7 separate regions of the Homo sapiens genome follow, and all the other regions are reported to be linked to region 5. Evidence: microRNA targets listed by miRTarBase, many of them from high-throughput screens and not tested one by one. Region 5 holds a microRNA gene; each other region holds the end of a gene's coding sequence. Distances are between the middles of the regions.

Region 1 (4,611 bases), not on the chromosome of region 5:
AGCAGTTAACCTCTCTCATGGTCACAGTATTTCAGTGAGACCTGGTAGGGGAGCAATAGTAACCCAAAAGACCCAGGCTTGGCCCCAGCACCACAGATAGCTGGGTGTGAGACCTAGGGCTCACCCCTCTCCCTGAGTCTCCATTTATTGTTCTTCCTCTTTCTGATTTGTTAAATATTTTTCAATTTTTAAGTGCACAATTGAAAATGTGATCTCTTCCAAAACACTTCACAACATTCCAGGTACACCTAAAGTTCCATGAAGGGCCTCAGTTTGTTCATCTCTGAATGAAAATTGTTCTTCTAGACCTCTTCTACTCTGCTTTGTCTTTGGTCCTGAGCTTCCTAAAAGAAAGGCAGGACTGGGGCCTGGGTGAGATAAGCAGAGTATACCTGAACCACTCCCAGCATTCCTGCATGCCCTCTTATCCTTCAGGTCCAGCTGTAGTTCCTCTGGACGTTCTCGAAGATGCTCTTCCTCTTCTTCGTCATCATCTTCCTCTTCGTCTTCCTCATCCTCATCATCCAGTTCTCGAAGCCGCTCACGATCCCCATCCCCCCGCCGGAGAAGTGACAGGAGGCGGCGGTGAGCATGTGTTCAGGGAGCGCCATGCACCTGGGATGCAGGTGCCTAAGAGTTGAGTCTTGAATTGTCTTATGTTTGGGGGGCTGATGACACCCTCTTTTGTCAGGTACAGCTCTTATCGTTCACATGACCATTACCAAAGGCAAAGAGTGCTACAAAAGGAGCGTGCAATAGTGAGTAGAGGAACAGATCATGGGAGGATGGGGCTTACCCCCTGAGCCTTGAGCTCAGAGAGCTGCCTGCAGCTGTAGCCCTGGCTAATGGTGTGTTGATTTTTTTTCATTTCCAAACATAGGAAGAAAGAAGGGTGGTCTTCATTGGAAAGATACCTGGCCGCATGACTCGATCAGAGCTGAAACAGAGGTTCTCCGTTTTTGGAGAGATTGAGGAGTGCACCATCCACTTCCGTGTCCAAGGGTAAGCTTGGGCCCCAGGCTCAGGATGTTCTTTCTATCCCATTCATCTACCTTGGTGTTTCTTTGTCTTGCCTCCTTGCTCTGGTGTGCTGAGCAATATGGGGCACCTTCATTTCTGCAGTCAGAGGGTTGGCCACTGGGAATGAGAAGAACCACCTCTGTACCTTGGGATGCTGTGTCTCCTCTATGGCATGGGCCCATATAGCCACTCCAGCCCCTGCCTCACTCTCCTCCTACTAGGGACAACTACGGCTTCGTCACTTATCGCTATGCTGAGGAGGCATTTGCAGCCATTGAGAGTGGCCACAAGCTGCGGCAGGCAGATGAGCAGCCCTTTGATCTCTGCTTTGGGGGCCGAAGGCAGTTCTGCAAGAGGAGCTATTCTGATCTTGGTGAGTGGAGGGAGGGCCTAAAGCTTTGGAATGCTTCATCCCCTCCCCAGAAGGGTTCCTAACCCTTTGTGAGTGGGGCTAGGCAGACTTACCTTAGTTTGACATACAAAGAACCCAAGGGGGCTGGGCATGGTGGCTCACGCCTGTAATCCCAGCACTTTGGGAGGCTGAGGCAGGCAAATCACGAGGTCAGGAGTTCGAGACCAGCCTGGCCAACATGATGAAACCCCATCTCTACCAAAAATAGAAAAAATTAGCTAGAGGTGGTGGCACGCACCTGTAATCCCAGCTACTCGGGAAGCTGAGGCAGGAGAATTGCTTGAACCCAGGAGGCGGAGGTTGCAGTGAGCTGACATCACAACACTGCACTCCAGCCTGGGCTACAGAACGAGACTGTCTCAAAAAAAAAAAAAAAAAAGACCCAAGGGGTGGGACGAGAGGAGAAATGGGGACTGGGGACTCTCCTATCTCTTTGACTTAAAATTAGAGCAGTTTTCACTCCATCCGTTTTTGGGATGGGAGATAGCTAGCCATTTGCAGACCCTGTGGTTGGGAAGTGTGGTCAGAGACCTTGAAGTTTGTCTTTACCTTTATAGACTCCAACCGGGAAGACTTTGACCCAGCACCTGTAAAGAGCAAATTTGATTCTCTTGACTTTGACACATTGTTGAAACAGGCCCAGAAGAACCTCAGGAGGTAACCTTGGGCCCTTCCCTGCTATCCTTTTTCTCCTTTGGAGGTGCCCAACCTCCTCCACCCCCTTCCCCTACTCTAGGGGAGAGAGCTGCTAGTGAGATGACTGTTTTATAAAGAAATGGAAAAAAGTGAAATAAAAAATATGTTGAATCAGATTTTTTAAAAGGGGTATTTGTTTTTTTATAACAGGTATTGAAACAAGTTAACTTGCATTCCTATGTAAGATAGGAGGGGCTGAGGGGATCCCCAGTGTTTGGAACATAAGTCACTATGCAGACTAATAAACATCAACTAGAGAGAACTCCCAACTGCTGTTGTGCGTCTTTATATGGTGCTAATGCCAAATGTATTCACTTTTCCTATCTGAACATGGTCCAGGGACATGCCTCTCCCTGGTCAGGTGCAAAAATCCCACTGGATTTGAACCTTGGTTCCTCAGATGTATTGTCTAAAATGAGTCATTTAGGACAGTGCTTCTCAACTTTAAAGGGAATTTGAATCATCTAGCGATCTTTTTAGAATGTAGATTCTGACAATGGGATGATGATACTGGTCCAGGAAGGGATTTTGATAACAAGGACCTAGAGAAGCTCACACTTGTTCCAAAGAAAGGTTTTCTAAACTGCGACAGGTGTATACATTCATCATGTCAGTTATGTTCATCATTTTATAATAGCTTGAGCACACTGCATGGCACAGCAGGTGCTCAAATGTTTTAAATAATGCATGCATGTGGGTAGAACAGGAAGCGTGGGGAAGAGGGAACTGTGGAGTTTTTTGTTTCTGTTTTTGAATTTTTTTGTTTTGTTTTGGAGATGGAGTCTTGTTCTGTCTCCCAGGCTGGAGTGCAGTGGCACGATTTTGGCTTACTGCAACCTCTGCCTCCCGGGTTCAAGTGATTCTCCTGCCTCAGCTTCCTGAGTAGCTGGGATTACAGGCACCCGCCACCATGCCTGGCTAATTTTTTTTGTATTTTTAGTAGAGACAGGGTTTCACCATGTTGGCCAGGGCTGTTCTTGAACTCCTGACCTCAGGTGATCCACCCACCTTAGCCTCCCAAAGTGCTGAGATTACAGGCATGAACCACCGTGCCCAGCTTTGTTTTTGATTTTTGAGATAGGATCTCACTCTGTGGCCCAGGCTGGATTGCAGTGGCAGGATCATAGCTCATTGCAGCTTTGACCTCCCTGGCTCAGTTGATCCTCCTGCCCCAGCCTCCCAAGTAGCTGGGACCACAGGTGCATGCCACTACACCTGGCTAATTTTAAAAATTTTTTGTAGAGATAGGGGGGTTTCACTGTGTTGTCCAGGCTGGCCTCTTAACTCCTGGGCTCAAGGGATCCTCCCACCTAGGCCTTCCAAAGTGTTGAGATAACAGTTGTGAGCCACTATGCCTGGCCAATTTTATATAGGAGAGGGGGGTGTGTTCCCATGAGGATCCTTATCTTTCCTGAGCGGCATTAGTGGGAGGTAGCCAAGGGGTAGTGGGTAGGATTGAAGGGATTGCTAACTGCTAATATCTGGAATGTGGCAGAACTTGGAATTAACTTGGTAGGTCTGAGCATTGATACTGGAGTTACTCATGACAAAGGCATTGATACTGGAGTTACTCATGACAAAGGCAGAGTGTGAACTCTGATCCCGGAGGAAGAAGGGTTATTTTCAACAATCTCTTCAGCTTGAATAGATTGTTGCTGTGTGTGATTCAGGTTTGGTGCATGACACCTTTCCTCTTCATGGAGCTGACCTAAGGCGGAATATAAGGGAGATGGGAGGGGCAGCTTGGGAAATCAACACCTCCCACCCTCACGACGGATAACCCGAAGGATCTTCTGCAGCAGAGGCAGGAGTCTGGAGGCTGGGATGGTATCAGAAAGGGCCTCCCTGGGTATTGGAGGCAGTGAAGATGAAGGGCGAGAATCCATTGGCCGTGCCAGTACGCCATGGGGGCGGTTGGGAGATCTTGTAGAACAACTGTTCGAGCCCGCTTGTCCACTCATTACTCTGGAATCCGAGTCCCAGCAGGGGCGCGGGAAACCGCTGCTCTGAGAAAAGGTACCTCCCCCAGAAAGACTGCGCGGGAAGTCCCGAGTTTTCCCGCCACGCCGAGGGCGTGATCCCTGACGTCAGAGCTCCGCCTCCACAAGCTGGCGGCCGGTGGGCTCCGCCCTTAACCAAGATGGCGATACGCGTGGGACCGGAAAGAGTTTATAGATTTCCCGTCTACCCTACCTCTGAGGTGAAGGTGGGACTGCCCTGTGGAGCCCACCCTTTCCGTTATGCGCCCGCGCGGCGCAATGACGTAACACAGGCCCGCCCACTGCCCCTGTTGGGTTCCTGAGTCGTGCTGCGTCGACAACGGTAGTGACGCGTATTGCCTGGAGGATGGCGGACGCCGGCATTCGCCGCGTGGTTCCCAGCGACCTGTATCCCCTCGTGCTCGGCTTCCTGCGCGATAACCAACTCTCAGAGGTGGCCAATAAGTTCGCCAAAGCGACAGGAGCTGTGAGTTCCGGGCTTGG
Region 2 (4,787 bases), 55 Mb from region 5:
CCTGGTTGGAGGGAGGGGAGCAGAGCAAGTAGAGTGTACAATGGAGCCAACACCTAAAGTTTGCTCTCATTTGACAATGAACACGGTGAGAGGGAGCCACTTACTGGTAACCATGCAGAACATGCCTTCTGCAGTTCATGGAGAGGCTACATGGGACGCAGGCCTGGAAATTCAGCTTCCTCACCACCAGGCGTGGTTAGATCCTCCCCACTGACTTGTGCGCTGGTAAGAGACCATGGATAATGCAAAGTGGAGCATATCACCATGCCAGGATCACCACAAGGACAAGGACAGACAGACAGACCAACCAGGAATACCACTTTTAAGGGGGAAGGAAAGAGTGAAGCAGAAGGAAACCCAGAATGACAAGGTGAAAGAAAGGAAAGGGAAACATCTCTTTGTTCTCCATTGGCTGGTGGCTTTCTGTCCTCCAAAGTCAAGGCTTCTTAAGTTGGTTTTCTTTCTTCCTCCTCCTCCTCCTCTTTTCTTTATTTTAAAGAGTTCCAACACAGTTCCTAGAATAGTTCATGGTTTTCAGCTGTTGCTGTAAAACTCGAACATTAAAATCAAATCAATCCACAGACAGCTGGGAGGAGAGTAAGCCCAGTATGCCCTAAAATGAAATTTAAGCTTGTTTCAACACCAAATTTGTGCTCCCAAAGTGTAGGGTAGGGTGAGGTTGTGGAGTCCACCAACCAAATGAAGGGTGGAAATAGGAATGAAAACACAAAACCCGCTCTGCTGTATAACCTGTGAAATAAGAGAACAGGAAGCTCTGTCCAAGAGGGTAGGGAGAGACTAAAATTCTTAAGTAAGATGGACAAGGTGACCAGTGAAGTCACTAGGCCATGGGAGCTCTCAAAAGGCACACTTGCAGGAATGGAAGGGGTTAAAGCTTCAAGTAGAAACAAAATGAATTTTCAATAAATACGGATAAATATTTGCTTCAGGTGCTCCTGAGGGTTAAAAAAAATTTAGTCTCATTTTTCTCAGTGAATTTTAAGACAAAATTGGTATCATGTGAAAAATGGGGTCATGGTTCAATCTGGCCTGACTGCAGCATCCACGGCATTGTGGAAATGCTCGCCTTGGCCGAGACACGTGAAGTCCCACCGCACAGGTGGCTTCAGGAGGCCTGAGGAGACAATCACCTTCACTGTGTTGAATCACTTTCCCATGGTACACGCCCACAGTGCCCAGGAGCTACCAAGACCAACCATAATGGGGGCAGACAAGGCAGATTTTTCTTAAAAAGCTGTAAGCAAACAGTCTGGTTCCAGGCAGTATGCGTCAAACTGGAATTCAATGGAGTTCAGAGGAACCAGATTACTTTCTAAGACAATCAACATATCTGTTGCCTGCCTACTTGGGGGAAGTGGAAGGAATCAACACGTTAACAGCTGGCTTAGGAAGGCCACAGGACTAAGGGAAAGACTGTAAGGTTGAGATTCTGTACTTTCAGGTTTCTAATATACTTTATATTTAGATAGGAACTACTGAGTTTGGAGGCACAGTCCATGCACAAACACAATGTCCTAACACAAGGTACAGCAATAGCGGTAACACCTGAATTGCTAGCCTTCTGGCCCAGCTTTCCCTTGTAAATAAGGACCCCACATGATCGAACAGTCTTTGCCAAGCAAGGATTGGCAACAGCACCAGAGCCTGAGTCGCGAAAGGGAAGTGTGGAGCTCCAAGCAGTTGGATGCCACATAAGTAGACACATGTTGTTTCCTCATTGAAGGGAACACAAAGAGCAGTTTCTGGAACACATACCCCTCCCCACAAGCTAGGCTTGGCACCAGGGTGGCTTTCCTACGAAGACCACATCATAAAAGCTAATGGCTAAGGGAAAGGATTCAGCATGATGTAACAGGAGAAAACACACTTATCAGTACACTTAGGCTGCCAGATGCTGGCTGAAAGCCAGGACCCAGGGCCAGCTGCAGCAGGCTTTGTGCCTGAGAAACGCTAATAATAAAAAGAGGAGTGTCAGGGTGGCAAGGTGATGTTTTGAAATTAGGATTTAAATTTCAAAACAAAACAAAGGCAAAACAAAAATCCTCTTTCCACTGATGAGAAATCACCAAAAATCCCTATTTAAATGGTGCCATTTGAAATAAACTTATTTTGACATCTCCTATGCCCAGGCCATGGTTGAGACTAGTAACTTTCTGTATCAAGCAAAGAAATGCTCTACTTGGTTACACCTTAATCTCAGAAATGAAGTGAAAGTAAAAACCCAAGCCCTATTTGGGTGACACATGAAGAAGACAAGTGCAAAGGATGGAGCTGTTTCTGAGGTCAGCCATGCGTCAAGAAGTCAAGTACATGATTCTCAACTCCATCACCTGCCAATAGCCAGGAAGAGGAATATATGTCACCACAAGGAAAAAAACATTTCTAAAAAGAACTGTTATTGGAATTCCCTTCCAGAATCAATTTCCACATTCTACAAATATGGGATGAGTGTGCTCAATGTGCTTTGGAAGTAAAAAGAAGCCCATAGGGAAAAAACAGTATCTTTTGATGCTTGCTTCAAAGATTTCTCACAATATTGGCATCTTAGAATTCCCTACTGGCCCCCTAGTGACACCAGGGAAAGGGTTCCACAAGTATTTCTAAGCAGCTTCTGATTTCTGTAGGCACCTGAGCTTTGTAAAAGAAACAGAAAGTCAGACAGGTTTTAGGACTTCACCACATATGAAAAAAAAAAAAGAAAAGAAAAAAGGTAGAAGAAAAAAGCAGCCTGTAAGTGAATGGAAAAGGCAGTTTCCAAGTACCATGTTCTAAGGGAAGAAAGAGGAGAATAAATATGTTTTTTGGCAACTTGCCACCAAATATGATTGATTGTCAGAAATTTCCACAATCAGACACAAAATGTTTTCTGAGACACACAAGAAGCACTCCAAAGACCAATGGACACTACTAGGCGGTCAGATGTTGGCTGCATAAACATTATTTCACAATGACCCGGCACACAAATGTGGAATAAAATCCTTTGTTGGGTAACTTTCCTCAGCCATAAAAGGCAAGAGGGGGCCAGGCACTGGCATTTCTGCAGAGCTGTCACAGGTCCTCTGTGGTTTTAAGAGAAGGGGAAAAACAGTTACTTTTACCCCGACAGCACCTGAAGCATGAGAGTCTAAAACCCTCCACCTTTGCAACTTACATATGCCCTTTCATTTTTTAACTCCAAGAAGGCCACATAAAGATTTACAGGGGGCTCTTCAGTTTCTTTTGGGAAGTTACTGATGTTAGTCTATTCTCTAACTTCTTGGTCTAGTTACCAGCAAGGTAGAAAAAGGCAGCCCAGCCCCTGTTAAAACACAGCAACAACTTTATCTGAACCAGGATGGAAATCTCTCCCTTTTTTTGTCAACAGAGTTGGCTATATAATATATATATATATATTTATATATAATTTTTTTTCTTAATGGAGATTTGATCCCAGCCTGGAGTGACTTCGGTTGGGAATTAAAGAGTTTTGGCTTCTGGGAGTAATTTTGTTTTCCCAATTCTCAGTCCAAATGCTTACACACTGGAAAATTCCAAATTAAAAGCCACAGAAAAGGAAAGGGGTTTAGAACACATTATCTCTTTGCTCGTACAAAGTACAAGGCGTTTGTTTTTGGATAGTACTTCACATTCTGTTTCTTGTCCATGAGTCCTCCAAATATGATGAGTTCACCCCTGCCTTGTACCACGGTATGCAGGCTGGTTTCAGGAGGTCCAACCACAGAACTGCTATTAAATACTTTCCATTTGACCCGCCCCTTCTCCTTGGTGTCTTTAATGTCCAGCACGTACATCTGCATGGGCTTGCAGTTCATACTCTGGTATAGGGGTTTGCCAACATTTAGGGACTGTGGAGGGTGGTGGCCCAGGCGGCGAGCAATGGGAGGTAAGGAATGTCCATCTCCTTGGGCAGGCCCTGGGCGAGGGATGGGCACTGTTTCTCCACTGCTCAAACTCTGGCTCCCAGGAGAGCCTGGAGAAGACCCAAGAGGAGGACTTAGTGCTGCAGAGGCCGAGGGGCCTTTGGAGGACATCGCTTTGATGGCTTCCAGACTCCGACGCAGGGCACCTGGGGAGACGGCCCCTGCAAGGGCACTGGCCACGTGAGGTGGGGTATGCACACCATTTGTCTGTTCAGGAGGGTGTCTCATACTTCCCCCAACTGTCCTATTGTCCATGCCATCCATGGGATTACTACTGGAAGCGGGTTTCAGATCCCAATTCAGATCTATGGATCCTAATCTCAGATCTTTCTGATCTGGTAGTGATCCTCGTCGGGGGGCCAAAGAAAGTCCTATTTTCAGGTCGTATCCTTCAGGAGCAGATGGAGTACTTGGAGATATGGCCTGTACAGGACTGTCCAAAGAAGAGCCACCCACAGCTGCCGTTCCTGGAGACAAACTCCCACCATTGAGGATAGGAGAGCCGTCTCCTCTGGCTGGGGAAAGGCTCCCTTCCCGGGAACCTGAAGGAGTCTGCCTTTGAGCCCTGGGTCTCAGTGTTCCCCAGCGGCCGTTAACACAAGGAGCTTCATCCATGCTTCTTACTGGAGACTGAGAGCGGTACTCTCGGGTTTCAGGAACGAGAGCTGGAGGAGTGGCACTGATAGGTGATGGGCGAGAGTTCAAACTGGGGCTGAGTGGGGCTCTCCCACTAGGAGCCTGGCTGAAGACCACCACACACTGTCCCACCTGGAAGACAAAGGACCAGTGCTCACACTCTTCTATGATTCTGATTGTTCATTCAACTGTCAAACATTTTATCATGAG
Region 3 (4,787 bases), 160 Mb from region 5:
TTAATTTTGATGAAGTCCAGCTTACCTGTTTTTTTCTTTCGTTGCTGGTGCTTTTGATATGTCCAAGAAATGTTTGACAAACCCAGTATCATGAAAATTTTTCCCTATATGCTAGCCCCTCAAGGATCAAAAGCAGCAATCAGTAATCAGAACCCACAACCTTGGTTTTTGGAAAACTGGGTCTTTATTGTCCAACCTGGCTCCAGCAAGCCACACTAAGTACCTGAGCTGCTGTCCCCACAACTGACTGCCCTGGGGCTGATCAAGGTGGGTGGTAGTCACCACTAAGTAAAGAGCTGAAATTGACCAAAACTTGCCAGCCTCCTCATCAAGCTTTCTCCTGGGTGCTGCAAGTGTTCCCTAAGATCCTGAATTCCAAAATAGTTGCATCAGACAGCTCTTGCCAGTTCAATTGTTTTAATGGAGGGATAGATTCCAGGAGCTTCTTATCTCCACCATGGAGCTTGATATCGTCTTTGAGTAACCAGATTTTATGGCCAGCATAAAACACTGGAAGTTTTAGCCCTAACATATGTAAGTTGTCTCTTTCAAGAAATTCACACTGGCAGGCTGTATACTGGCTCCACTGATGGTGCCAATTCCCTTCTCTGCAACAACTGAGCTCTGGACACCTCATTCCTGCAACTTCTGAGCCCCCTTCACTCTGTTCAACTCAGAGGCCATTCTCATCCCACCCAGGGGCCAGCATGAGTGGCACTGCCTGTTGGTGGCAGCTTAGAACAGACCAGGGGTCTCACTCCATAGCCAGTGCCAGGAAAGCATCTTTCTTCCTTCTGGAGGTAAAAAGAGAATTAAAACATAGCTTATCTCCAGAGCTGAATCAGAAAACTTTTTCTATTGCCTGCTTGTAGAATATATTTTCTCAATGAAAACAATATCCAAAAGGGTGGCTTGAAATCTATAATATAATTTATTTTTTATTTTTTTTTTAAGTTTTTGAGATAGGGTCTCACTCTGTTGCCCAGGTTGGAGTGCAGTGGCACGATCATAGCTCACTGCAGCCTTGGCCTCCCGGATTCAAACAATCCTCCCACCTCAGCCTCCTGAGTAGTTGGGACTACAGGTGTGTGCCACCATGCCCAGCTAATTTTTTTTTTTGATGTTTTGCAGAGATGGAGTCTCCCTGTATTGCCCAAACTGGTCTCAAACTCCTGGCCTCAAGTGATCCACCCACCTTGGCCTCCTAAAGTGTTGGGATTACAGGTGTGAGACACTGCACTCATTTTTAGGTAAATTACAACCCCTAAGGTTTTTTGTGGTTGAGAAACATACTAGCTCTCATAATACTGGGATAAGAGTTTCTGGGCTCCACAGGTTTTGCAGATTATTAAGTGGCTGTCTGTCTGTCTATCATGAATCAGCCTCCCAACATTAAATCTCTTCATTCAGAAAAGATAGAGGAAGATTTTCTTTTTTAAAAAAAGTTTATTTTCCACACTATTTGTACAGCTGTAAACTCAAGGAATCATCCAATACTTGTACAAATCTGGGAGAACAGTTAATAAGCACCTTCAGTGGTTTCCACAGTTTAAGAATTTACCATTAAAAAATTTTAGAATAAATCTAATAAAATGAATAAAATAGTTATAAAAATCATACAAAATCATGATGAACATTTGATATAGAGGGTTTAATATGAAACGATAAATACAAAAAGTGAGACTAATTTATGGATTTGGGCTACGTAAAAGACCTACATGGTCCTCGAATCTTGTGATTCTTGGGGCTATATTTGCCTCTCAAGACAAACTCCAATTATTCAAGGAAGACTTTCTTTCAATTCAGGTTCCAATGTACTGCAGAAGCAAGTGAGGACAAAGTCAGGAGAAGGTGGGGCAGAGAGGCTGAGTGTACTGGGGTTTGAGGAAAAGAGGAGAGACTCTTTTCCCCAAAGAGAGTATCAGGCAAATTCTTCCATGTTCTCAAGTATAAGTGGTCTTTGGCAAAATGTACCATTTTCTTTTTGGAGTTACTTAAGAGTTTTACTTATTGCTGTTCTTAAATTCCTTCCCCTACCACTTCCTCTTGGGCTTTTTTATTTCTCTTGTTGATCAATCTCTTTTTTGTGATACTTTTCATTGAATCATCTCGACTCCTTTATCCCATCCTTTACTGACTCAAACTCCTTATGCTGAACTTTTCAATCCAAAATTTCTATTGTTTTAGGACTCTGGGAAGCAGTTGATAAAAAGATAACACGAGCTACTGATATGGTCAGGAGATGTTTTCTAAACAAATTGTAGAAATATAAACATGAAATGTGGCAATGATCCCTTTAATTAGATCATTGAGCAATAAAGGATATGAACCATTAGTATAAATATTCAATTCAGTCTTTCCGGATTGTGTTGTTAGATAAGAATACATCCAAAAAGGGCCACAGATCGAGGGAGAAACCAAGGAGGGGTGAGGTCATGGTTGAGTGTAAATTGGTTCTGTCATGTGGAGGCCGGAGGTGAGGGACTGTGGTGGGACATCATCTGGTGCCAGCCCCATCCTGTACCTCAGATAGGTCTCCGTGAAAAGGAGGGACATCAGTGCAAGCAGTGGGGCTAAAGACCAGCACAGCAACAGAGACTAGAACCTTGGATGCAAGTATTTTGGGCAAAGAGGAATAATTAGTAATCTTTGGTATAATTTAAGGCACATCAAAAAAATCCCCTATTCTCAAATATCTGACCTACACCTTGAAATTCCTACCATTGGACATTCTTTTGATTTAAGCCTTTAACTAACAAATGCCAATATCCTACTGCTCAAATATTGACATTCTATCTGGGAGGGGCTGCTCATTATCATCCACCAAATGCCCATAGATCTCTAGGACAGGGTAGGTTTTGATGAAAAAGCAGCGCATGAATATTATAATGGGGGTCTTAGACAAGATGATGATGGTGAGGAACTGAGGAGTAAAACTATAGGACTATAATAAAGAAGAAATTCAGAGCACCAAAACAAAACATTAAGGAATGCTAATTTCCTCCTTAACTCCCAACTTTTCCTAGTCAGGCCCCGGCTCATAGGTCAAGGAGCTGACAGGACGGTGGGTACCTCAAAGCGAGGCTGAGCTCATAAGGCCACAGGGAAGGGTGCAACTCAAATTTGGGAGGTTCTGTTCACCACTGGGGGGCTAGTATTGGGAAAAGGTCCTAGGACACTGGGATGGGCATGTAATCCTCACTCAGGGGTGTATAAGTCTGTCTGAGGGTTGGGGGTAGGGGTGGAGGGTTCTGTCCTTGTGTAGGGGTGGAGACTTTTCTATTAGAGAAGTCCAGGGTGCATGTTTTGGGGAACAGTGAGGGAAAAGTTGTTGGGGCTCAGGCTGGGCTGGGTCTGGGCCTAGTGGCCACTCAGCCAGAGGACACTTTTCAATCTGGACCAAGTTGCTTCAAGTAGAGTGTTGCTGTGAAATACTTGGAAAGGAAATAAGGCACTCTTGTCTTCATTTCTGTTCGATACAGTCAACTCCCAAGGTGTTGTCAGGGCAACGGCAGGTCCTGCTCCCTGGGGTGGCCAAGCATAGGTGGGTGCAGCCGCCATTGTTCACTGAGCAGTAGTTATGGCCTGGAAAAGGCAGAAATCAGTTCAATAGCCCTCTCTCTGATCTGACTCCATAGCCATTTAAGATAGTGGGCTCCTTCTTGTGTGTGATCCCCCTTTTAGTTTCCTTGAAGCCATGCTAGGAAGGCTTCAGGAGAATGGGGACACTGTGCTAGGCAGTCAGCTGAGCTGATCCATTGTTTGTTTTATCAGCATTAAACCAGACACAAACACTGATTCCCAACTTGGGGGTTATGCAGATTTTCTACTAAGGCTATTAAACAGATCTCAGGGGGAAGTTCTCCAGCTCTGATTATAACATAGAATTGGAATTTTAAAGTGCAAAGTTCTTTTTATGTAGCTTGCACTCCTAGCTTCACACTGACAGAAGAAGATGAGGGAAGCTGAGAAGGAAAGTGGGTGAGGGGAGAGGCCTTCAAGAGGCAGCATAGCATAGACTCCAGGGCCAGGCTGCCTGGACTTGCCCCTGTGAGCTGTGTGACTTGGAGCAAGTTGCTTCAGTTTGCTTATTTATGAAATGAACATAATAATAGTACCTACCTCACAGGGTTGCTATGAGGATTACATGAACTAACAAATACAAAGTATTTAGAACTCTAAGTGAGTTGATATATGTAAAGTTCATAGCTCACAGTAAGTGCCACACATATGTTTTCAATTCTTATTATTAATTATTGTTATTGCTGTTAGGCCAGATGGATGGACTTTTAAAGGAGCAGAGATCCTAACATTGTAATATCCTAACCTGACTATTTGGAACCTGAAGACCCTATGCTTTTATATCCAGCCCAAAACTCAATGCTTTTCCTCATCCTGACAACTTCATGACCTAATATTTTCTGTTTATTTAACTGGTTCACCTGCTAATGAAGACCCTGGATGCAAAGGACTGGATCTCTCTTACGGCATAATCAAGGCTACTAGTGGCCATACGGGTAGCAGCCAGAGTGTGGGCTCTGAGCCTCCATGTGCCCCCAGTATGCCAACAGTAACAGCACAGGAGAGTTACCTTGCGGACACTGAGACAGGGCCGTGGTGATGCCATACAGCCGGGTCTGCTTGTGGGGTTGGAAAGCATCCGTCTCCTTGGAAATTGCAAGATCGAGAGCAACCACGGAATTCCTACAAAGCACCAAAGGGCAGAAGGTGAAAACACATCTGATGGCTTGAACTTGTATCTAAACAAGGCAGCCTCTTTGTCATTT
Region 4 (4,787 bases), not on the chromosome of region 5:
AGCCTCCAGACTACTTCTGCTATGCCAGTATCATCTCTGTGAACAGTTTGGGGAATATCTCCATGTTTTCTAAGCCATGTAATTACATATTTATAGTTACTCCTTTATCATTCATTTTATTTTATAAAAATGAGAGTATGCAATGGCTTGCTTTTTTCACTTAATATATTTTTATATTATTCCACCTTATTACAAATTGGTCTCATTCTTTTCAATGGCTGATTGTATGATTATATGGATGTCCTACAGTTTAGTTCACCAGTTTCCTCCTCATTCCATTTACTTATGTTTTCAAGATTTTCAGTACTTTACAAGCATAGACATAGGGAACATCCATATACATGGATTTTGTATACTTCTGCCAGAGAGGATATTAACCTCATTGTGTTGTGTGTGTTGCACATATTATTTTCTAGCTTGTCTTTTGGTTTTGCTGCTTTTTACTAACTTTAAATATGAAAGATAAATAAAATGATGTTTCTGAGGTTGGCCACACTATCCAAGAATAGACTCAGATTTTATAAGCAATCTTTGTTTTTAATGCTGCCATTTTAAATCACCGTGAAGGTAATTAATGATTTTGGACAATGACCATCTTAAAATGGGGCATAGAATTTATTTAAGGTTTGTCACAGTAAAAACTATATTTGAGATTGAGTTTCCTTAAATTGAAATTTCAGTTTGGGTCACCATTCCTGAAACCATTTCTGATACATTGTTGAATTACAAGAGAGTTATTCAGTGATCAAATTGACACATTAGGAATGAGAATTCAACATATAGACACATGGCTCTTCAAATTCATCATCATTTTCCCGAAAACTTTTTAGGGTAAATTGAGATTATGTAAATCAAATTTTAATGTGTACTTTCATGGAATTATGAAAGAGATCCTTTTGTAAAGCAAATAATTGCCCCGTAATTCAGCTGGTAAATATGTACTTAAAATATGCAGTACACCTTTCATTACGTTGTTTAAGTCTTCAAATGAAAGTTGCAAGTAAAATCTCAGCTACATAATATTATATTTACCTAGGATATGGGGGGAGGTATTACAGATTCCTTATTCCTTGCCTGTACACCCTTGATTTGGGGAGATTTGAGAAAAATTTAAGTACAGTCTGTAATCCTATGAACTTCATATACACATACAATCTATGTGTTATATTAAGTCTTAAAACTAACCCAATAAGCTTTTTTTCTTCCTGGCTTTGTAGTTTACTTCACCTCGCAGTGGTATCTTCTGAGTAAACCATCAGTCTGTGCTTAGTTAACATGTGGTGAGTGAAGAACAATGTCTTGTGTCTTTTGTGCAAAAATCAAATGTGTTGCCTGATACTAACCATTTTGCTGGAATTCTTTTGCTCTTGTTTAATAAATATATGATTATGCTATGGGTTAATATAAGTATTTTCTGTTCATTCTGTTATATGGATCGATAATAGTTAAAAATTACTACCACCAGTAAGAGTTATATAATTTTAGGAAATTTCATTTCTTTAAAGAGTAATTGAAAGTTTGAAAATTGCTCTTTGAAATTTTGTTAAAGAATCCAAAAAAGTATTTATGTAACTTATTTTCCCTTTTGTTTTTAATTTTCCAAGAATGATCTTTGAAATTATGATTGTGAGAGAGAAATGAAAAATCATTTTCTAGATAAAAATGAAGTGGTATATTCCGTGAGAATTCAAAATCCTGTAAAGCCTGAGTCAAGGCCAGTCAGAAATAATGAAAACTAGTAAGATCAATTTTAAAATATAGCTTCATTACTTCCTGAAATCAGACAGTTTAACACAAGACAACACATTTGTCCTGAGGAGACCGTTAGGCAGCCTACTTTAATTGAATGTGATTCTTCCTGATTAACATATTACAGTGAAATGCAGGCATATGAAATGTTTCAACGCAGTTGACTGTCTTCATCATTTAAACCCTCTCCCCTCATCTCTATGTATTTTTCATGCTATTAGGTTGATTTAGCACCCTCTGAAAATGTACCATACATCTTTACCTCAGCCTTTGCTAGAATTTTCACAAAATCAAAAACAGATCACAATTAGTAGGGCTTCACTATAATTAAAATAAATACTCTCAGTGATTGTTAATATCCAGCTAATAATAGTATCAAGGTTTAAAATGGCAAGATACAACATTTCTCCGTTCTTTTAAGCTTTTATTTATTTATTTATTTATTTATTTATTTATTTATTTATTATTTTTTTTTTTTTTGAGACGGAGTCTCGCTCTGTCGCCCAGGCTGGAGTGCAGTGGCGGGATCTCGGCTCACTGCAAGCTCCGCCTCCCGGGTTCACGCCATTCTCCTGCCTCAGCCTCCCAAGTAGCTGGGACTACAGGCGCCCGCCACTACGCCCGGCTAATTTTTTGTATTTTTTTTTAGTAGAGACGGGGTTTCACCGTTTTAGCCAGGATGGTCTCGATCTCCTGACCTCGTGATCCGCCCGCCTCGGCCTCCCAAAGTGCTGGGATTACAGGCGTGAGCCGCGCCCGGCCTTATTTATTTTTTTTTAAAAAATAAGTAAAGCCTTTATCACCCTGGCTGGAGGGCAGTAGTGTGATCATAGTTCATTCCTGTGTCAGCTCCTGGGCTCAAGGGATCCTCCCACCTCAGCCTCCCAAATAACTGGGACTCTAAGGCACCTATTTTTTTATTTTATTTTATTTTGTAGTGATGGTCTTGCATAGGCTGGTCTCGAACTCCTGGGCTCAAGCGATCTTCCTACCTCAGCCTCTAAGCTTTTTTTTTTTTTTTTTTTTGAGACGGAGTCTCGCTCTGTCACCCAGGCTAGAGTGCAGTGGCGTGTTTTTGGCTCACTGCAAGCCCCGCCTCCTGGGTTCACACCATTCTCCTCCCTCAGCCTCCTGAGTAGCTGGGACTACAGGTACCCGCCACCATGCCCAGCTAATTTTTTGTATTTTTAGTAGAGACAGGGTTTCACCGTGTTATTCAGGATAGTCTCGATCTCCTGACCTCATGATCTGCCCACCTTGGCCTCCCAAAGTGCTGGGATTACAGGCGTGAGCCACTGTGCCTGGCCCTCTAAGCTTTTATCTTTAAAAATCTTCTGTGCCTTCATTTGAGCCTCCTTTTGATTTTAATATATATTATTTGATTTGCCTTAGCGATTATCCAGAACTGTCTTATTTTTGTCATCCACATTACAATGGCTGGCAGTACAATGCATGGTTTTATTAGGTTACTTTGATAATAAATGTGAACATTGAAAAACTGTAAATTCTATAGCTAACCCATTAAGTCTTAATGTTTTCCTTTTAAAATAATACTGCATTGTACTTGTTATTATTGCAGCTGAATATCAATTATCACTGGAAATGTATATTGTGCAGCATTTCTATTAATTGATTAATTGATTGTCTCCTCAACTTTTAGTTTGAAACATTTCAGACATAAGATTTGCAAAAATAGTACAATGAACACCCATATACCCTTCACCTAGTAATGTTTGGCCAGATTTTCTGACTTGCTGTCACTCTTGTTCTCTCTCCATTTATATTATTCCCCATTTGTAACATTTGGCAATTACTTGCCGACATGCTTGCAAGCATTTGACAATTGTAAACATAAACTAAGTACTTTAGCATGTATCTTTAAGAACAAGGACATTTTTCTACATACAGTACAGTTATTACACTCAGGAAGTTTAATATTAGCTAATACTAATATATAGTACATAATACTCAGTTTTTTACAGTTTTCCAAATAATGTCTCCCATAATTTTTTAGAATCCAGGATCCACTTGAGATTTCACATTGCATTTAGTGGTCATATTTTCCTAGTCTTTTTTAAACTAGAAAACGTCTAGCTTTTTTGTTTTTAATGATGCAGCATTGTTGAACTGATCTTGAATTTTGTTTCCCACAACAGATCAAGCTACGGTTTCAAAATAAAAACTGACAAGGAATTTACGTATAACAGAAGATCTTGTTGGTGTCTTCTTTAGGTTCCTAGGACCAACATGATTATTGAACTAGTTTTATAAATAATATACTATTAGTAGTACATTATGAGTAGTGAAATATTTGTTCATTTACAAATTCAGAAGACTAAAACTCCCCCTATCCACTTAATATATATGGAAAGTTTGCCTCTATTAATCTTACTTGGTAATTTATTTTTATGGGATTTTAAACTCATATCTTGATGTGACTACTGGTTTTAGCATTTTCTTTTCCTTTTCTTTTTTTTATATTTGAGACGGAGTTTCACTCTTGTTGCCCAGGCTAGAGTGCAGTGGCGCAATCTCGGCTCACTGCAACCTCCACCTCCCAGGCTCAAGTGATTCTCCTGCCTCAGCCTCCTGAGTAGCTGGGGTTACAGGTGCCCGCCACCACACCCAGCTTATTTTTTGTATTTTTAGTAGAGACCGGGTTTCACCATGTTGGCCAGGCTGGTCTCGAACTCCTGACCTCAGGTGATCCACCTGCCTTGGCCTCCCATAGTGCTGGGATTACAGGCGTGAGCCACTGCTCCTGGCCAGCATTTTCATTTGAGAAACATTATGAGGAAGACTTTGGCTATGTCATAGCTTTTTTTTTTTTTTTTGCCCCCCAGCATGGTCACACCAGCCTAGAGTGCAGTGGCGTGAACACAGTTCACTGCAGCCTTGACCTCCTGGGCTCAAGGAATCCTCCCGCCTCAGCCTTCTGAGTAGCTGGGACCACAGACACATGCCACCACACCTAGCTATTTTTTTTAAAAAAAAGTTTGTAGATACAGGGTCTTGCCATGTTGCCCAGGCTGGTCTTG
Region 5 (4,787 bases):
TGACTAAAATAGACTTAAAAACTGAATTAAATTTTTATATACACTTATATTTAATTAATCTAAAGAGATAGCTTACATATAGAAATTAAGTAAAGGGGAGATCTGTATTTTCATTCAAGATGTTAAAGGCTAGCACAGAAATTTTCTAGGCATTAAATCATTGCTTATTACATAATGTTTTTAATAGTTTGCTTTGATATCAGTATTGTGAATAACGGAGCAAATTCAGCCATATTAGTTCTGTTGACTTCATGCTCATAATTTTGAGAAGTCCAGGCGTAAACTAAAACTCTTTTGGTGTACTTGAATATTGTTTGTTGATGTAAAATATGTAATCTCTGATTTTATAGTTAACAATAAAAATAAAATTTTAGGTGAGTGAAAGCAGTGATTTAAATTTAACAGTGTCCTCTTGAAAAACCTTAATCACAGTTAAGTGATGGCATGGGCAATGAATTTTAATCATATTTAGGAATAAAATACTAGATATTAGTGTATAACAATTAGATATATGTTAATTGAGCACTACAAAGCCTGAAAGCTTAACAAAGTGGGGCTATAACTAGTAATTTTTTGGTAAAAATATAGTGATCTTTTTCTACAGGGTATTATTATAAGGGACAAATTATAGTTGTAAATTAGATTAATGAATTTTGTGAGTTTTAAAATTTGTACGAACCATGTCTCCCTTGTGTCATATTTTCCAATAATATAATTACCTAACAATGACAGAATTATACATTTTCCCTTTAATTCTCTAAGCATTGAGTAAACAGAAAAATATAGGGATGAAATACACACATGCCAACATTCAAAACTTTGTACTAACTAGAAACAAAAATAGAAGGGGATTTATAAAGGAAAATGATGGAGACATTTTAGAGAAATTAAGTATAAATCGCAACATTCTGTTTTCTTGGATGTATTCTGGGTAGCTTCTAGTTACTTGTAAACAAAGTATTCATTGTTTTTGTAATAAAGTGATAATGTTTTGTTTTATAGTTGAGTGGCTTTAGGGTAATTTAATCACCTGGAAAGTGATATTTTTTTAATTACCTTTTGTTACTAAATCTTATCTAATTTAAAATACTATGTTTTGAAAGTATATATCTTGTATAGTTATCTTTTTATATGAAAATGAACTCTAATACATATCTTTCTTTCAGTGTTCATATCACAAAGCTCAATTAAATGGTCCTGGAAAAAAAAAATCGTTCCATGTTGTTCCAGGTCCCGTTCAAGAAGTTCTTCCAGTTCGCAGTCAAGATCTCGTTCCAGTTCCAGAGAACGTTCGAGATCTCGTGGGTCGAAATCAAGGTGAATGAGGTAGCATCTCTCTGTAAAGCAGAGAGAAAAATATTTAAAGGCTGCAGAAGGTGTTGCTGCTTTTTTTCCCCTTATTTTGCTTCTACTTGTCGATTTTATTTTAGCATTAGAAAACTAATGCACTTGCCTCAGCTTAATTTTCTCACCATGAAATGTTTCCATTGCCAGCAGTGTGCCAAGACATTCCCATGATTGAAATCAGGTGGCTATTTTGCAATATGCAGCGTTTATTATTTTGGCACTAAGATGTTATGAAGTAGGAAGATGAAGCCAAGTCTTATCGCCACATCTCTAGTATATTAAGATTATATATGGCCAGGCACAGTGATTCATGCCTATAATCCCAGCACTTTGGGAAGCTGAGGTGGGAGGATCACTTGAGGCCAGGAGTTCAAGGTTGTAGTGAACCTTGATCACAGCACTGTAATCCAGCCTGGGTGACAGAGGAGTGTCTCAAAAAAAAAAAAAATTAATAGTAGTTCAAATAAAATTACATATGTAAATAAAAAGAAAAATTTTCTTCATTATTAAAAGGAAGAAAAATAACCCTGCCTCAAAACAGGTCCTGTTTTGCACGGCAGTTGTTTCAATATTTTCAGAAACAAATTTGCCATTTATATCAGATAAAGTTACTAGAGTACTGTATATACATTTTCCTTTCTAATTTTACACACGCTATTATTTATAGAGCACAAAACACTCAAAACTAAATCAGGAAGTATAGTCGGTTAGTTGAGATAGGATGTGGTCTTAAGTAGTAAACAGTGTTCTAAAGTTTCAGGTTGCATGTAGTCACATCTGTAGAGGGAAACATAATTTGAAAGATGCTCTTGCAGGAAATTTTTCTTTGTTTAGTCAAAATATGCTCTCTTTGTTTTTAAGTTAATTTATTATGACCTAAAGGCATCTAAAAAATAAATAAGAAAATGAAATTCCATATTTGTGGAAATTCATATTGAAGTCTAACTGTGGCTGTTTTGGTAAAAGTATTTGCTGCTTTGAATCAAATTTAGCATTAAAGGGCTGCCACAGTATAATCATGTTAAGGAGAAAAGAATGTTGTGCACACTTGCATTATAAGCCAATAAGAAATAGATAACAAGGCCAGGCTCAGTGGCTCACGCCTGTAATCCCAATACCTTGGGAGGCCAAGGTGGGCGGGCTGCTTGAGCCCAGGAGTTCAAGACCAGCCTGGGCAATATAGTGAGACCTCGTCTACTAAAAATAAAAATTAAAACAACCAGCCAGGCATGGTGGTGTGTTCTTATAGGCTGAGGTGGAAGGATCACTGGAGCCCTGGAGATTAAGGGTGCAGTGAGCCATGCTTATGCTACTGCACCACAGCCTGGGGAACAGAGCAAGATCCTGTCTCAAAAAAAAAAAAAAAAATAGAAGTAGAGAGCAAATTATTTTTTATTGTTACCATTATTTAGTAACAATATTTAAGCGCTTTATAGGTAAAAATCCTTAAGTTCTGGTATTCCCTTTGGGAACCATTATAATTAAGGTTTACAGAACACCCATCATATTCTTCCCAAACATTTTTTCATTGCTTGTAACTTTCCAAAGAATTCTCCTTTTGGGCTTTCTGGTTTTATTTTAAGCCCAAAGGTGAATTTTTTGGGAAGTTTGAGCTAAATTCCTTCAACCAAAATATACAAGTGAAGAAAAAAAATTTGTATTTAAACATTTGCACATTTACTTCTACCTGAAGCATGTGAATGTCAACACTTCATATTTCATAAGTAGTGGGTTTTCATAAAAATAGTATTGTAAATATAAATCATCTTAAAGTTAGTTTTTATTTCTTCTTGAATATTTAGCAGTTAAGTACAGTTACTAGTCTTTTGTTGCTGTGCCATATACCTGGTTTTTCCATAACAGTTTAATGAGTTGAATAATTCCACATGGAATTATGTTTATTTTCCTCAGGAAGTGGTATATAAGATACATATTTTAATCCTCAAATGGAAGGATGTAGTTCCTAAACGTAAAGTCCTGTTAATGCAGTTATCTGCTGATTTTATAATACTATAATATTTGTGTATACTTTGAAAAGCCTTAAAAAAAGTTTAAATTCTATTTTGATATAGTAAGCAGGGTTTTAATTACACATGATAGAATTTTAAAGAGACAAAATTAAAATGTTTAAGTAGAATGTTTTCATGGTTGATCCAGAAGTCTTCTGTTGAATAAGCAGTAAGTATTCTTCCTTATAAAATTTTCATAGTTGTTATAAATCCTGTTTATTTTTGGAGCTATCTGATAACTAAATAATCTTCCTTATTTCTTCTTTTAATGAAATGTTTGATTTGTTTCTCAATCAATGAAGATCCAGCTCCAGGTCCCACAGGGGCTCTTCTTCCCCACGAAAAAGATCTTATTCAAGTTCATCATCTTCTCCTGAGAGGAACAGAAAGAGAAGTCGTTCTAGATCTTCTTCATCTGGTGATCGCAAAAAAAGACGAACAAGATCACGGTCACCCGAAAGGTTTGGGTTTCTGTAGAAATAAGAATGGGTGTTCTTAAGTGTGTTTAATAGATAAAGTAAACTTTCCTAGTCAAGGGTTAGATTTTTATTATCTCTTGTGTTCCGACTTTCTACTTTTCAACTTTGAACTTCAAAAAAACATTACTTTGCTTATCCTTTGTACTTTGATCAGGTTGTTTAGAATTGTAGATCAAACCATTCTTTGATCATTTTATTGTTTAAATTTTTAGTTCCATTTATAATTTTTATAGCCAACTCTCGGTTATTTCTGTCTTTTGAGATTGCAATTCAGAAGCTGTATGTCGAAGTAATTTATGAGTTGACTTTTATACTTAGGCTTCTTTAAATACTAATAGTCAAGAATTCTAGAGCATCTAATAAAAAATTAACTTTCAGATCATTGGGAATCTGTCCTCATTTAAATATGTGTAAATGCATTTCCACAGCAAATTGCTTCATGCCCTTTGTCTATAAGGAAATTATTCCTTGTAGCTAATACATTTTTCATTTTGCAGTCCAAATCTTTTTTGAGAAAGGCCTATATTAGGTTACTTTATCTGTACTGACACTTTTAATATTGGAAGAATGCAACTGTCATCTGTCAGCCTTTTCTGCAACAGGCTAATTACTCAGTTTCATTAATTTTCTCTTTGTTCCCAATTATATAGTCATTTTAATGGCTTTATTTGTAGTCTTTGCAAATTTTTCATATTTTATTAGCTTGTGAAAATAAAGATTATGTAAAGTCTATTAATTGCTGGGTTCAGTGGTAGGATTATCTCATGATTCCTACTTGTACAGAATGATTAGTTTTGCTTCTTCACATTTTGGAGTTTAGATGTTAAGATTTCACACAGTCTTGTTTCTCTGCATTTGTTTCTTTGTAAAAAAAATTACTCTGTTTTTGAGTGGAATTCATTCTGTTGCTTTCTTACCACTTCTGCAAATTTTTATCTTAGCCACATATAAT
Region 6 (3,000 bases), not on the chromosome of region 5:
AGCTGGGGAGAGATGAAGGATCACTTTCGTGTCATTTATAAATCTTACTCATTGAAAACAATCGACTTCCCGATGCAATGTAGTATCCCAGAACAGAAAAAGGGCCTTAGTGGGGAAACTGGTGAAAGCAGAGAAAAGTCTAGTTGGTAGTGTTGTACCAATGTTACATTTCTTGTTTTGGCAAATGTACGAAATGTAGTTTTCGTGGTTGTTTCCCAGTTCATAATTCTGTCCTATACATTTCTTCTCCCTCCTCTGTGTGGAACTCACACAGAAAACCTTGAACATCTTCCATTGTTTCCTGTGCCTAGCATGCCTCTCCTGCTCTTCCTGACCTCGGAAGCTGTGCTCCTCTTTCAAGGCCAAGCTCTGAAAGAGTTACTTGCTCTGGAAAGCTTTCCTAGACCTCCCCCTCAAGTGTTCTCCTGGGACATTCTATCTTTATTAGTGCTAGGGACACATGGCTTTGTTTGATTTCTACCAACTAGGTTGCCCAGAAAGTGGACTCCAAGATGAAAACTAGATGCACGTTTTTTAGGGATTAACACTTGTGGAAGAGGAGGAATGCAAGGCTGGGACGGGGGAGGAGGTGGGCTGCGTGATGTAATCCTAACAAAAGCCTCAGCAGACCCCACAAGCTCAGAAGCCACCATGTCCCTCAAAGTTGTCCCAAATTGGGGTAAGAGAAATAGCGACCTGAGATTTCCAGCCCATTACTCACTAGATGTAGGCTACCCAGGGAAAAGGGCATGACTTTGGCTAACGCAGCTCTCCTCTGAAAAGGCACTGCCCAGAGGGCTAACCAGCTGAAGGGTGTTTGTCAGCAACACTTCTAGCAGCTGAGGCAGAAAGGCTTCAATCTGGAAGGAGGGTGGGGTATCACATCTCCTCTATGTCATCCCTCACCCTGCAACTGTAATCGCTATATTCCCAGTGCAAGGCCTAGAAAACAATGTTCCAATTGGAAAGACTGAAGGTGCTTTGGCTCTCTGAAGGCAGAGGCCTGGACCACAGGATTACATGTGGTTTCTTCCCACACTAAGAACCAAGTGTGTTTCTTCCTCACCCGGTTCCCAACAGCAGAGAGAGAAAGCTTCCCTTTGATTAGAGACTAAGAGCCTCAGAAACCGTTAAGATGTTCACCCTCCATTTGACAGTGAGAACCATCTGGGAGACAGCAGATTTCATTCTTAAAGGACTAACATTTCTCAATAACCTTTTAGGTCTTTCGTCTTTTCAAGCAAATGAATACTTTTATTAACATGGTAAGTTTTTGTTTGTTTTAACATGGTAGGGTTCTGACCTCAAATATTTGTTAGGTCTGCTACTCAAATGAACTTACAGCTGGACAACGTATGAACCTTGAAGATGCCTCTTCTAGTCCAGTTTAGGGTCCAATGCAGACAGTTCCATACTGTCATCCCCAAGCCCCTCAAGGGCCTTTGCCAATCTTTCATTTTATGCCAAGTCCTCTAAAACGCATCAGGGTATTACATCAACTTGTACAGAATATCAAGATCTTATCTTCTATTTTAGGTTCCATGTCAAATAAAGCTGAGTTAGGTTGTCCAAACAAACTCACCAGACAGGTTACATAAGATAGTGTACCACAACAAATTTAAATTTTGAACAAAACACATCTCTCCTCCTTTGGTCTCACACAGAAATTAAAGTCTCCAAATACAGACAATACTATCCATTCTCCAGCTCTTCTCCAGATTCACGAGTCCCAGCCAGGTCGGCCCATCCACACTCCCCGTTGAAGTCTGGTCCTTTCTTCAGTAGTTGCTGCATGGAGTCGTCTTCCAGAATTAATGCAGCTCCTTCAGCACCTCCAGAGCTGGAGAACTCCAACTGTGAGTCTCATGTGTCACACACAGACCCAAAGTTCCAGGGAGCTATCAGGTCACACAAGAAATAGCAAAGCACCTCAAAAATTTAGAAATAACCACCAAAGCCCGGGAACAAATGTGACTGCTGCAAGAGCTTACAATCTAGGCCCTAATTCCTGTATGTGAGAGCATTTTCAAACAAAATTACTTCCCAAACAAAAACACGTTAACAATCGAAACTCATATTGAGGTCATCAACCACAGACCATAGCAGAAAACGTAGTGTTAAGTGAGACAGAGCATAGACAGGAAAAAAGAGAAAACAAAAGGCTCTCTGGTTTCGGCTTCTCCAGGGTGTCAGCCAATCTCCACCAGTTGACCAGAATCCATTGGCTGGAAACCTAAAGCACAATGGGAAGAAATTCATCATCGAGAGGTTAATCCCAGGCACAACGACCCCCAAACCCTCACGAACGCCACTGTGCAGGACGCCACCTCTTCTGGCCACCACCTGACTCACTCCAGTCTCTAGCAACGTTGACTTGTCCAACGTCTTCCCCGAAAATCCTCTATTTCCACCCCCGCTTGCTGGACGGCCCGGGACCTTGTCCGTTTCTGTTTCCTTGGCGACTCTGAGATTTATGACCCTTCCACTGAACACGCATCACGCCCAAACCCGGCCACTCTGATTATCCCACGCCGCCACCGTCAAAAAACAAAACACGAAGACGGGGCCCAGATCGGCCCTGACCCGAGCACGCCTTTATTCTCCCGCCCCACCCCCGATTCCGGTGCATCTCGATGAAATCATCGCTCTCGAAGAGCGGCCAAGCTGGGGCCGCTCCTCGGCCTGGCGCGGGTGCCCGACTTACCGCCGACCGCGCTCACGACGACTCGCTCTTCTCTATCCGCCGGACCAGCTCCACCAGCATCTCTGCCATCTTCGCAATCTCCTTGGCCTTCTCCTCGGCCTTCTCGCACCTCTTGGCCGCCCGGCCCTCGGCCGCGTCGCCCGGGTTCTGGAGGTGGTTGAGGGCGCTCTCCTCCGAGGCCTCCACCTGCGTTTTGATCTGGATGAGCATATTGTCCATCTCCCACAGCTTGCTCCGGTTCCGCAGGTACGCCCGCCCGTGCTCGCGCGTCAGCGACGCGATGTCCTCGCGCATCT
Region 7 (4,787 bases), not on the chromosome of region 5:
CATTAGGAGAAACACCTAATGTAAATGACAAGTTGATGGGTGCAGCAAACCAACACAGCACACATATACCTATGTAACAAACCTGCATGTTGTACACATGTACCCTAGAACTTAAAAAATAAAAAAAAACAACTTGGTATAGCCACATACACTACCTTTGAAAGATCTCCAAAAAGTGAATGAACATTACAGGATTAAAAAAAAAACCTACATGACATTATTTTCCAAAGGTACATACAATTATGTGATTATAAATCCATTAATTGTAAACCAGTTACAGTGATTACCTCTGTATCACCACTCTGGTAAGCGGAGGAAGGCAAGAGGAGAAAAGGGCTGGGGATGGTCAAAGCAGACTGACACCACATCTATAATATTTAAATGCAATTTCTTTTCTAAGAAGTATATTTAAGAAAATCTATGTACTAATTGAAAATTTTAAAAATAATACATTATAAACACTATGTTGAACTTTTTCTTCCAGCTGGGATGAAATGAGGCTGGATTCTTGAATGACTAAAAAACACTGGACAAGGCCAGGCACAGTGGCTCATGCCTGTAATCCCAGCACTTTGGGAGGCCAAGACATGTGGATCACCTGAGGCCAGGAGTTCGAGACCAGCCTGGCCAACATGGCGAAACCCCATCTCTATTAAAAATTACAAAAATTAGCTGGCCATGGTGGCGGGTGCCTGTAATCCCAGCCACCCAGGAGGCTGAGGCAAGAGAATCGCTTGAACCTGGGAGGTGGAGGCTGCAGTGAGCTGAGATCGCGCCACTGCACTCCAGCCTGGGCGACAGAGTGAGACTCCATCTCAAAAAAAAAATTGTTTCTAATGTTTACCAGAGTCACTAAGCTTAGCATCAAGTTTTGTATTACTTAAACCAAATGTGACTATATTTAAGGCTAATACAAAACCCAAAATTCATGATTTCTAAAGTGAATTATTCAGTCCACCCTTACAGGTTTTAAGGCTTACAGAGGAGTAAATTCTTAGTTCAAGTCCACTGATATAAAATAGAACATAATTTTGCCCACAAAATAACAAGAACCACACTTCAAAGTCACAGCATGTGGCTTGATAGTAATTTATACCAAATAGTTCTTGGTTTTTACTTTATATGCAATATGAACTAAAAAGGCAGAAAGTCACAAACTAGCTTTCAGATTATAAAACCAAGATAGTATTCCTCTCAAAAATTATTGGAAAACTACAGCATAATTTCTATTGATTTGTGGAAGATCAACTTGCAAATCACTCCCACAAGTGTACCAAGTCCTCCCTCCACCTATTACTTCCAAGGCTCTGCTTTCTATTGATATGAACATGTGCCTTAGTTACTATCGGCTGGTCTAGAGGTGCAATAAAATGAGTAGAAAGCCCACCCCAAGCGGACTAAGATAAATCCACTAAGCATTAAATTTTATAAGCAAAACGCAGTAACACACTATTAATTCAATAAACATGTAGATTTATTTTAAGTCAGTTTGGTACATGATACAGATTGGTTTTGCAGTTTTTAATGAACTGAAATAGAAATGTCTAAATACAGCAGTATCTGCCTGTGCAACAAATATCTGTAAGGTAAAATAAGGTATTTGATAGAAGAACATCTGCAAGAACAAATCAGATGAAAAATCTGAAAAGGTTTCTATATACCTTCTGGATTTTAAAAAAACCCAAAAATTAATGGCTCAAGATACTACATTGCTAAAGTTAGGGGAAAAAAGTAAAAAGGCTGTGAGTTCTGTTGCAAGAGCTCATTTGTAGACTTGCAAAATCTAACTAATTTTATATTATGCTTGTTGTTAGAGCAGTGCTCAAAATTACAGAAGCTTCAAATTGTTATGTTTTCACAAAATTTGCTACATATGTTGACATGAATGTGTGTCAGGGAATTCATACCCAGGTAAATGACAATTACATCAGTATAGCTAATTTTTGCCACCTTGGGAGGAATGGAATTCTGCCTATTTTCGAATTAATCCTACAGCACTCACTAAAAACTAACAGCCATGGCACCATAATACATTTTGTGAGGTACCTAGAATATTACTAATGGAAACAAAAAATGTGAGGTAAACCGACCTTTCCCCAAGAAACTTTGAAGCCAGAGATTTTAAACAATTAAGGCACTTGAAAACATTAAGTATATGTACAAATGTGCAAGTAAAACAAACAGCTGTACCAACGAGTAACAAAGAAACAGTAAATCTTCATCTTAACAACCTTTAATAGTTATCTAAATGCAGAGTTTGTTTATGAAATGAAACAAAGCAGTTTGTCATTTCTTACTATAAAATATTGAAAATCAAGTGCGAAACTCAGCCACTATTGGCTAAAGAAACTAAATAAAAAACGTTAATGACCTAGAAAAGCAAAAGCCCATTTTAAACTACTTAAAGCCTCTGCACTAGTCCAATGAGTCAAAGGCAAGGGAGAAGTAAACCTCTAAAACTGAAGACGACCCTCTAAAGGAGAAAACTATAGAAGTTAAAGTATGCATGCTTATTATACTATGGGAAACCAAGAAGGAAGGGAGAGAAAAAGAAAAAGCACAGTCTATTCATCCAGGACAATCAGTAAAAATCTACAGTAACCTGATCAACCAAAAAATCCTTAGGTGTTGTGAAATTACATTGGTCACTTCTGTTATCTTAAAACTTAAAATGATTGTCTCATTTAAAATAAATGATTCTAAAATAATATGATTGTCTCATTTAAATAGTAAATGATTCTAAAATAATGTATATCCTTCTTGCCTCACCAAAGAAGTCACTACTCAAGACAGTCTGGTGGAAATCCTTTCAAGGTACAATAGTGCTAGCATACTTTTTTTTAAAGTACAAAGGAAAGTGTAATTAAATCAATTTAGCTCTATACTTTTCAACAGCCATAAGAAAAATGTTGGGAGGTTCAAGATACGAAGGCTTTCAATTCTGTATAACAGACTTTAGCTTAAGTTTCTCCGCTCTGAAATAAATTTTCAATAAAATATTAACAGTATGATATCTAAAACAGGTTTACTACTGCTCACATCAAGTTACATCCTCTGACCAATCCTTACCTTCCTTAATGTCAAAGAACAAATCATAGACATTAAGCTAGAGCTTACCTTTCACTGTCTTCTAAGGCACTGTTCTTTATATTCTCAATGACATAAGATGCTTTACAAGTATGAACAATAATCTGTTATACACACTAATGGTATCCTTTCATTTCTTTAAATCTGGAATGTAGTTCCTTGTGTGGCATCTTATTTCTAATGTAGAAAAAACAGCTGTTATCAAGCACAAAATTTTAATCTAAGGATACCATTTAGTACTACTAAATTAATAAATTTATTCCACTTTTGAAATGACAGCCAAAAATCCACCTAATTGATTCTCATTTGGCACGTTCTTCTCAATTCTGTTCACTAAATTAAAATTACTAAATTTAAACTGCCAAGAGCCATGATGTTGTCTGCACAAGACAACATTTTCCATCACTTTCAGAAAGTTATATTTGGCATGTTAAGGAAAAAAAATATAATCCCACAGCAGCAGCTATTTAAAATAAGACAGCCACAGGATTCATGCAGAATATTTTAAATATTCCTGTTGAACACAATGATTTAATTGATTTTTTCTTCACGGATGATGCTCCCAAACATCCTATATGCATCCATGGAAATTTAAAGATCCTGGAATAGCGTCTTCCATGTGGGACATCTTAAAAGATAGTATTTTGGCTTCAGTGAGTTACACAAATGAATCACCAGTCCTTATTAATTCAATGGGTCTGTTTACAGAGTGTGGTAATTTCGTTCTTTAGATTTGCAGAATTTATAAAGAAAGAAAATTACAGCCTGCACACCCAAGACCAGGACAATTCCTCCAATGAAACTGGCTGCATCAAAGGTAGACTTTCGCACAGGTTGTGAGGTTGGAGTCACAGTGTTATTTGTTGTACCTGTTAGATAAGACAAAAGAAACAACAATCCTAAGTTTCATGGTCCTCTATTGTAATTTAAAGATGCACCTGAGCCTCTATTTTGCCATGTGTTAAATTCTATAAAGTATTTCCTCAAGTCTTTACAGCTAGAATTTATCCCTAATTGAGGAAGACAACCATATCCCATTTTTCATTCCACCCAAGGATACAAAGTGGTCAATGCTACTGTACTAGTACAAATATAAAAACAATGGGAAAAATTCTCCTAGTACATAAATTGTGCCCTGGGAATGTATCAAACACTTCTAAAATATGCAACAATTTCTTCAGACTATGTACTTTTAGTTAATTGTGAGTGTAAACGTCAATAGTGCTGAGAATTCACATGACTTTTGAATTTACTAGTATAAGGTAAAATATTTGGTTGCAATTTTTCATGTTACAAAAATAATCTTAATAATATGCAATTTATAATTTCAACAAGTAAAATAACTGTTTTTAAAGGCATATCCTGCCAACAAATTTCACATGAGAAAGTATTATCAAGTAATAAGGAAAAAACAAATATCTGAATTCTTTTCAGGCAGTAAAATGTTTCAAGAGGAAACAGAAAAAGCGATTTCCATTTAAAATAATCTAAGAAAAAAGTAACAGTTATCAAAGAACACTGGTTCTGGTGGCTGTACAAGTTGGTAACTTTAATGACAACTGTTTTGTATTCCTTCTCGTGAAGACAGAATGGCTTCACTGAAACTGAGAAAAAGGTGGCATAAGCATGAAGAAAAAGAAATCACAAAAAGCAGGTAGAAGATTCATTAGCATCAGTTTTTTAAAAATATGGAGGGAGGA

Evidence for each region. Region 5 holds the annotated microRNA hsa-miR-186-5p (CAAAGAAUUCUCCUUUUGGGCU, at 2,891-2,912, shown strand). A microRNA usually pairs through its seed, bases 2 to 8, with sites in the 3' UTR of a target mRNA and lowers its output. Matches are read on the target gene's strand: a 7mer-m8 pairs with bases 2 to 8, a 7mer-A1 pairs with bases 2 to 7 and ends in A, and an 8mer does both.
Region 1: miRTarBase lists PPRC1 as a target of hsa-miR-186-5p. The part of its 3' UTR that is shown has no 7-base or 8-base seed match.
Region 2: the mRNA of FBXO42 is a reported target of hsa-miR-186-5p. The part of its 3' UTR that is shown has no 7-base or 8-base seed match.
Region 3: the mRNA of NID1 is a reported target of hsa-miR-186-5p. Seed matches in the 3' UTR shown: 7mer-A1 at 2,951-2,957.
Region 4: the mRNA of GOLGA4 is a reported target of hsa-miR-186-5p. The part of its 3' UTR that is shown has no 7-base or 8-base seed match.
Region 6: miRTarBase lists MRFAP1 as a target of hsa-miR-186-5p. The part of its 3' UTR that is shown has no 7-base or 8-base seed match.
Region 7: miRTarBase lists CD164 as a target of hsa-miR-186-5p. Seed matches in the 3' UTR shown: 7mer-A1 at 2,342-2,348.

The regions. Positions count from the first base shown.
Region 1 is chr10:102,147,937-102,152,547 of GRCh38, forward strand. PPRC1 (PPARG related coactivator 1) reads left to right here. Exons shown (of 14, transcript NM_015062.5): 10 at 436-585; 11 at 692-758; 12 at 881-1,002; 13 at 1,242-1,393; 14 at 1,990-2,397. The coding sequence ends at 2,093. NOLC1 (nucleolar and coiled-body phosphoprotein 1) reads left to right here and starts at 4,453. Exons shown (of 13, transcript NM_004741.5): 1 at 4,453-4,594. The coding sequence starts at 4,475. RefSeq lists enhancers at 3,939-4,611, 4,044-4,343, 4,514-4,563.
Region 2 is chr1:16,247,077-16,251,863 of GRCh38, forward strand. It overlaps FBXO42 (F-box protein 42), which reads right to left. Exons shown (of 10, transcript NM_018994.3): 10 at 1-4,709. The coding sequence ends at 3,594. Among named protein-coding and RNA genes, the nearest start is that of CPLANE2, 12 kb to the left of the region's middle.
Region 3 is chr1:235,974,404-235,979,190 of GRCh38, forward strand. It overlaps NID1 (nidogen 1), which reads right to left. Exons shown (of 20, transcript NM_002508.3): 19 at 4,592-4,704; 20 at 1,427-3,585. The coding sequence ends at 3,464. Among named protein-coding and RNA genes, the nearest start is that of LINC02768, 4.3 kb to the left of the region's middle.
Region 4 is chr3:37,360,026-37,364,812 of GRCh38, forward strand. GOLGA4 (golgin A4) reads left to right here. Exons shown (of 24, transcript NM_002078.5): 23 at 1,218-1,280. The coding sequence ends at 1,247. Among named protein-coding and RNA genes, the nearest start is that of APRG1, 19 kb to the right of the region's middle.
Region 5 is chr1:71,065,806-71,070,592 of GRCh38, reverse strand. MIR186 (microRNA 186) reads left to right here and starts at 2,877; the gene lies at 2,877-2,962. It overlaps ZRANB2 (zinc finger RANBP2-type containing 2), which reads left to right. Exons shown (of 10, transcript NM_203350.3): 8 at 1,231-1,317; 9 at 3,659-3,817. ZRANB2-AS1 (ZRANB2 antisense RNA 1) reads right to left here. Exons shown (of 3, transcript NR_038420.1): 3 at 3,409-3,827. RefSeq lists a silencer at 2,041-2,090.
Region 6 is chr4:6,640,963-6,643,962 of GRCh38, reverse strand. MRFAP1 (Morf4 family associated protein 1) reads right to left here. Exons shown (of 2, transcript NM_033296.3): 1 at 2,705-3,000; 2 at 1,234-2,233. The coding sequence ends at 2,717. Among named protein-coding and RNA genes, the nearest start is that of MRFAP1, 1.8 kb to the right of the region's middle. RefSeq lists a silencer at 2,241-2,310.
Region 7 is chr6:109,365,062-109,369,848 of GRCh38, forward strand. It overlaps CD164 (CD164 molecule), which reads right to left. Exons shown (of 6, transcript NM_006016.6): 6 at 1,453-3,956. The coding sequence ends at 3,790. Among named protein-coding and RNA genes, the nearest start is that of CD164, 15 kb to the right of the region's middle.